Linked DNA regions of Homo sapiens. The protein of the gene in region 1 interacts with the protein of each later gene in a pairwise test. Each region holds a gene or a part of one and is shown on either strand. Other genes may lie near its edges. The genes, in order: ARFGAP3 and RAB6A.

Region 1 (3,825 bases):
AGAAAAAATTAATGGGGCATGGTGGCACGCCTATAGTCCCAGCTACTTGGGAGGCTCACCTAAGCCTGGGAGGCCGAGACTGCAGTGAGCCATGATCATGCCACTACACTCCAGCCTGGGTGACAGAGTGGGATACTGTCTCAAAAAAAAAAAAAAAAAAAAAAAGGGACTGTGCCATGCCAGAATTCACGATAGCTTAGGATGGAAAAGCAGTCTGGCCAGATATACACACCTCATTAAGGCAGTCCAAGAAGTTCAGAGGAGAGAGGCAGATCCCAGGGAGGTCTTAGGAAAGGAAGGGTGACAGAAGAGAATGCAGAGGCCTTAACAGACATCATCCAGGTTTTCTCCAGAGAGTAAGGACAGGAAGCACACTGGAAATAAGATGAGCACCAAGCTCCGTGCTATAAGGAGTTGCACAGAAGATGCAGATCATAGGAGGTCAGAGGGGCCAGTAACCAAAGGCCAATATAAGAGGGAAGCAAGAACCCATAAGAGCAAAGAGGCCAGGGACCTCGGTGAGCTAAGATCTGGGTGGGGGAAATGCTAAGAACACATTTACTCTTTCTTGGCAGAAAACAAAACGAAACAAAAAAGGGACAGAGGATAAACTGCTGTTGGAGCAGATGGTATGATATTACATCCTTAATAGACAGAAAGTAGAATTTCTAAATGTGGCTTCTGCCTTCTCTGGCAAGAAGGTCATTAAGAACAAATCTCATGACACTAGCATCTACTCCTTAGGAAGGAAAACGTGGTGTTCAAAGTGTATCTGGATTTCAGCTAGAAACCGACCAGGCTCTCCCTATGGCGGATGAGTGGATCTGTACTGCACCCAGGCTCTGCCTGGAGGAAGAGAGATGACCGATCCCCTTTCAGAGAAGAGAGATCAGGACACTGAAGGAACCGGAAGTTACATCGGAGGAAGGTTCAAAAGATGTGGGATGTGTGCTGGCCTGCAAGGTGATATTCACATGTTTGAGGGACTTATTTTAAGGCACCATGAAAGAACTAAGATCAATTCAGTGAGGAATTTTAAAACTACTTAATAAGCACCTACGAGGAGTCAGGCACTCTGCTAGGGGAAGACAAAGGGCAAGAAGACACATTCAGCTCCTGCCCTCATGAGGCTTGGGAACTGACTTATGGAAGGGAGGCTGACTTGAATGCAGAAGCCTCAGAAGCTGCATTAATGAAAGGCAGAGTTTCTCACGGAGCTGACCTGGGACCAAATGGCTGCCTTGAGGAGAAGGAAGGGTGTAGTAGAGGCTGGACTGCCCTGGAGTGGGAAGAGGGGGGTCAGCACTGGACTGGTGCAGGGTGAGGGTGGGGTGGAACTTCCAGGTTCTTCATGACTCTGTGATACTAAATTTTGTAGATTTAGCAACACTCTAAGGAAATAACATTCTTCATTCTTATAAGCCAATGTACTTATCCTGAAATGTAGAGGAATCAGATTACTTTTAAGTGACTGAACTATTCAGAAGTCAAAGAAGAGAGACAGCCATCGGCTTGGGTCCCCCTGACCAGCATGAGCCTGTGAGGCAGCAGTCCATGCGTGGGCTGGCTGGCGGCTTCTCTGTCTTCCAGTCATCCACGAGAGGCTCTCTGTGCTCATGCTAAGCAGGAGCAACTCAGTAGGAGGACTGGCAACTCACTAAGAGGACCGACAGACCACCAGCCAGGACTCCAGCTGACCTTTGGAAGGATGGGGTGAGTGGGACGACTAACGGCCACTAGTCCCTGCTCAGAAACACACAGACTTTCCTTCCTCATCTCCAAACCTTTATTGGCTTTCTAATGTTTTGATTGTATAGCTCTCAATGCTTTTTTACTTTTATTTTTCCCCTCCCACTCTGTCTTTACCCAATCTTGAAAACATTCCTTAAAATCCCTTGATAAGAGCACCCTAATATCACATTTGCTCTGATTTAGAGCTATAGACAGTTGTCTATTCTAATTAAGGCCATGCTGGCTTTATAAGGCTGAGCAAATTGTTCTAGTTTCATTATCTTGTACTCAATATATAATTATACTGTTTATATCCTAGAAATAATGGAACTCAATAATAAAAAAAAACAAGGACAGGTTTTATCTTATTTTTAACAGAAACAGAACTCTTTCATAATTCATAATGTTCAAGTTCTAATGGGCTAATGAATAATTTGAAAGCAATAAGAGCTCTTCATCGAACTAATATATTTGCTTTCAGAGTCCATGTTTATTTTACCTCAGTTGCCAAAGTACCTAATAGTATCCTCATTCTACTAGTGGTGGTCACCATGCCAAGGAGGACTAGAGAAGGCATTTATGTTCCTATTAGACAATCTGCAGGTCGTGATAAACAATACACCAAGGTCTCTCTGGAAAGAGTCCAGGAGGTGTGGTCTATATAAATATGCCATCTGCTCCCAGGTTTCAAACCATAAGTAACAGTTTCATAGCAACAGTGGCTTCTGGGTCTAACTCTTTTGATTAAGCCTTTGAAGAAGGGGAAGTCTGAAAGATCCCTGAAGCCTTTACAAGGCAGAAAGGCCCCACAGGGGCCTGTCAGTGACCTGGAGCCAGTGAGGGTCTCTGAAGTTCCCATTAGGCAACCTCACTTAGAGCTTTCTTACCAACCCGGCTACCAAGCAACAGTACTGATTTAACTGAAACTTTCTCTTTTTTTTGAGAGAGGGTCTTGCTCTGTTGCCCAGGCTGGAGTGCAGTGGTGCAATCTAATCTCACTGTAACCTCTGCCTCCCAGGCTCAAGTGATCCTCCACCTCAGCCTCCCAAGCAGCTGGGACTACAGGCATGTCCACCATGCTAGGCTAATATTTTTGAAATTTTTTGTAAAGATGAGGTCTCACTATATTTCCCAGTCTGGTCCTGAATTCCTGGGCTCGAGTGATCCTCCTGCCTTGGCTTCCCAAAGTGCTGGGATTATAAGTGTGAGCCACCATGCCCAGCCTAAACTTTCTTTACCTTCCTACACTATCATCTGCAGAAGTTGCTAATAAGCAGTGAAATAATCAAAGATGTTGTGAGAAGCCACACAGGCTAATACAGACCCGTACTGCCAAGAGTTTCCTCTGACCCAGACTTAGTCCACCATTTAATATTCACATCTGAAATGATCTGACACGTATGTAGTTTCCAAATCAAATTACACATTTAATTTTACTCTGTGTAAAATCTATTTACATACCTTTAAAAGGCATGATTTGGGTATCACTTCTGAGTAAAGTGAAACTTGGTGCATTATACAGGCTGCAAAGGATAGGCAAAAATATAAAACCACCCAAGTCTCTGAAAATACCACCATGGAACACCACTAAACTACTACTTTTTTTTTTTTTTTTGGTAAAATCCCTGGACTTGAAATAATTTAGAGCTATACTTAGAGACATTTTTAAGGATAGTATTCTTTATACAATTCCTTGTCTATAAACATTGATAGGAAAATATACAATTTCACAATTAGATCCTAGGTAATATATTTATATCTGTTCTATATATGAAGTGCATGTGTGTGGGTGTGTATATATACACACACACATATATATCTTTTATACATATGAAAACGCTTCAAACCTATAAATTGCCAGACAACTCTAATGCCCTCAGAGACATAAGTGATGGAGCCTTCCAGTAAGCACCGCCCATTTCCGACAGGAACACCTTCAGTTTTCATGAACTGCTAACCCAAAGGTGGTCCTCAATGTGGTTAGTTTAACTACCTAACAATAGTAATCAAACATTTAGGCTGGGCGTGGAGGCTCATGCCTGTAATCTCAGCACTTTGGGAGGCTGAGGCCAGCAGATCACTTGAAGTCAGGGG
Region 2 (3,825 bases), on another chromosome or scaffold:
AAGCCTGAAAACAAGTATCAAGTTCTTGCATCATGATAAAGTCGTTTCCAAGCTTTCAAATTTTTTTTTTTTTTTTTAGACAGACTCTCATTCTTGTCGCTCAGGCTGAAGTGCAGTGGTGTGATCTCGGCTCACTGCAACCTCTGCCTCCCGGGTTCAAACGATTCTCCTGCCTCAGCCTCCCGAGTAGCTGGGATTACAGGCGCCCGCCACCACGCCCAGCTAATTTTTGTATTTTTAGAAAAGATGGGGTTTCGCCATGTTGGCCAGGCTGGTCTTCAACTCCTGACCTCAGGTGATCTGTCCATCCTGGCCTCCCAAAGTGCTGGGATTACAGGCGTGAGCCACCACACCTGGCCGCTTTCAAATTTTAAGAAATGACATGCTATATATCAAAACATAAAAGAGAATATTCAGGAAAAAAAAAACACCTAAGAAATAACACTGGAAATTAAATAATGTTTTTGGGTGCAGGTCTCAAAGTACTGCATTTAAGATATTCACTGTTTAGGTGACAAGTATCTCTTCAAGGGGTAGTGGGCTAGAATACAGATTTTACACTGTATTTAAAGAAAACATTCCAAAGGATGAAAGACAAAAATCCAACAAATAAATACACATTACTTTTTTTTTTTTTTTTTGCAACGGAGTTTCGCTCTTGTTGCCCAGGCTAGAGTGCAATGGCGCAATCTCAGCTCACTGCAACCTCTGCATCCTGGATTCAAGCGATTCTCCTGCCTCAGCCTCCCAAGTAGCTGGGATTATAGGCGCCCGCCACCACGCCTGGCTAATTTTTTGTATTTTTAATAGAGATGGGGTTTCATCATGTTGGCCAAGCTGGTCTCAAACTCCTGACCTCAGATGATCCACCTGCCTCAGCCTCCCAAAGTGCTGGGATTACAGGTGTGAGCCACCGCACCCTGCCCACATAACTTCTTTTTTGTCAGTCACTTTGATACGCATCCTATCCTGACAAAAAAAATCTTGAAGTTCACAAATTGAAATCTTTTTGAATGCCTCAAGGGTGGCATTTAGAAGGTCTTTAGCAGGTTTAATTTCTTCATAAAAATTCTCCTTTAATTCTCTGTAAAGCTCTTTGTTTTCATTTTTCCAAATCAAGATGACTGCCAAGTACTACTCACTCGGTAATAAGAGTTTTTCTCAACAACTGTAAACTATCTTTGGTAACTTTGCTAAGTACTTCTTATGGTGACAATCATTGATAACTTTGATTGCAGTTTTCTAACCTGGAATGTTGCAGAAAATTGCACACTGAAAATATTACTCACTGTTCGATCCTCCAAGTACATAGTTTTTGATAAAAAGTCAATGCCAATTGTTGCCTGTAAAACAAAACAAAGAAGTTAACAAATAATAAGTTTAATGGTGGCCAGCAGTTTAGGATTCAAATGGGATTCATGATTGTGGAAGAAATAATGAATAAACAAATCAATACAACATAGTCAATTAAGGACAATTAAGGACAAACAAAATTTCCAGTGATAATGATTTTCATGTATTCAGCACTTGCTTCATATCAGAGATTGTTTTAAGCCTTTTACATGATCATCTCTAATCTTTATACATTCCTGCCAGGTAGCTTATTCTCATCCCTACTTTTCTCATTTTACAAATAACAAGACAATGGCAACTTTGGTTTAAATATTTGTATTTGAACTTTAGTTTGAGTATCTGATTGTTCTCCACTCAGAATGGTAAGTATCTGCCCCAAGAGCAGTTTTATAAAATACTGTTGATATATTGTCAACTGTCCTAATGCCATAGACAGCCAGAGACTCACAAACATCATAACTTTCCATAAGAGACATGATTTTTCCAATATAAAATAAAAGTCATTAGGTAAGGAAAACAAGTTTTCCTCTGTACCACACAATGATAGCTTCCTTCTGTGGTGAAAACAAATGTAAAGTTCTATTGCCTGGCTGCTGTTTTCCCTATCAAGAGAAAATGGTGAAATAATAAGAGAATAGAAAGAAGGCAGACTACAAAAAAGAAAGGAAAAAAAGTATACAAGTTAAAAAACAGTCCAGTATTAATTAGGGGAGATAAATAAAAAGAATGGAAGAAAGACAGACTCCAGAAAGAGGATGTTGATATGGACTCTATTTTAGAAGTTTTACCACCTCATTAATGTTTGTGTGCACATATACTATGTATATATGTGCGTGTACATACATACTTTTTCCCTAAATATCTTTGTGCCATATTCCTTAAAACAGAAACTGAGTCTGTGCATTTTAAAATATGAGTCACTAAGAATTTTAAGTTCCTAAAAAACAATCAAAAACTAGATCAGAAAAGTGGTCCATCAGTTGGGGATTTTATTTCTGTTAGCAGAAAAATAGAATTTTGTGTGTGTCATAGTTGAGTTCTCACGAGATCTGATGGTTTTATAAAAGGATTTCCCCTCTCTTTGCTCTGTGCTTCTCCTTGTTGCTGCCATGTGAAGAAGGACATGTTTGCTTCCCCTTCTGCCATGATTGTAAGTTTCCTGAGGCCTCCCCAGCCATGTGGAACTTGAGTCTATTAAACCTCTTTCCTTTATAAATTACCCAGTCTTGGGTTATCTCTTTATTAGCAGCATGAGAACAAACTAATACATGTGTCTCCTTTAATTTCTCCCAGCAGTGTTTTGTATAGTCTTATGCTGTTTGTTAAATTTGTTCCTAAGTATTTTATTCTTTTCTGATGCTTCCGTAAATAAAATTCAAATATATATGTGTGTGTGTATATATATATATATATATATATATATATATATATATATTTTTTTTTTTTTTTTTTTTTTTTGAGACAGTCTCACACTCTTGCCCAAGCTGGTATATAGGGGTGTGATTTTGTCTCAGTGCAGCCTCAACCTCCTGGCTCAAGCAATCCTCTCGAGTAGCTGGGACTACAGGTGCATGCCACCATGCCCCACTAATTTCTGTATTTTTTTATAGAGACAGGGTTTTGCCATGTTGTCCAGGCTAGTCTGGAACCCCTAGGTTCAAGAGATCTTCCCCACTTGGCCTTCCAACACGCTGGGACTATAGGCATGAGCCACTACACCCTGCCTAAAGATAATATCTTTATATGAAAAATCAATGCAATGTTGATAAGTCTTTACATGTTTTTACATATATTCAAGAATGAAAGCTACAGTAAATTACATAAATTGATTATCTACTAAGTGCCGATTTATACACATTGCCCCATTTAGTTCTCATTTATTCGTTCATCGATTATTTATTTATTTATTTATTTAGAGACAGAGTCTCGCTCAGTCGCCCAGGCTGGAGTGCAGTGGCGTGATCTCGGCTCACCGCAATTTCTGCCTCCTGGGTTCAAGCAATTTTAGTGCCTCAGCCTCTCAAGTAGCTGGGATTACAGGCATTCACCACCAAGCCCAGCTACTTTTTGTATTTTTAGTAGAGATGGGGTTTTGTCATGTTGGACAGGCTGGTCTCGAACTCCTGGCCTCAAGTGATTCCCCCCGACCTCGGCCTCCCAAAGTGCCAGGATTATAGGCATGAGCCAATGTGCCCAGCTTGCTCATCAAATATTTATTAAGCACGTACTTGCAAGTACTGTGTAAGGTACTAGAGTGATGAACAAACATGCAGTTAGTCTCTACCCAAATTGGACGGAACACATTTAAAAATCATGTACACCTGTCCACATTCATCAGGAATATTTATTGAACTCTATTCCTTCCAAATACTGGGGGGGAAAAAAAGAAAGATTTATTTTACTTATTTTATTTTATTTTATTTATTTATTTTGAGAGACAGAGTCTTGCTCTGTCACCCAGGCTGGAGTGCA

Evidence for each region.
Region 2: the proteins of ARFGAP3 (region 1) and RAB6A interact in binary tests that used the Homo sapiens proteins (3 or more experiments, as listed by UniProt).

The regions. Positions count from the first base shown.
Region 1 is NC_000022.11:42,812,083-42,815,907, forward strand, and holds part of ARFGAP3 (ADP-ribosylation factor GTPase-activating protein 3), read right to left. Parts: intron 1-3,825.
Region 2 is NC_000011.10:73,719,557-73,723,381, forward strand, and holds part of RAB6A (ras-related protein Rab-6A), read right to left. Parts: intron 1,344-3,825; coding exon 1,290-1,343; intron 1-1,289. UniProt on the Homo sapiens protein: The small GTPases Rab are key regulators of intracellular membrane trafficking, from the formation of transport vesicles to their fusion with membranes.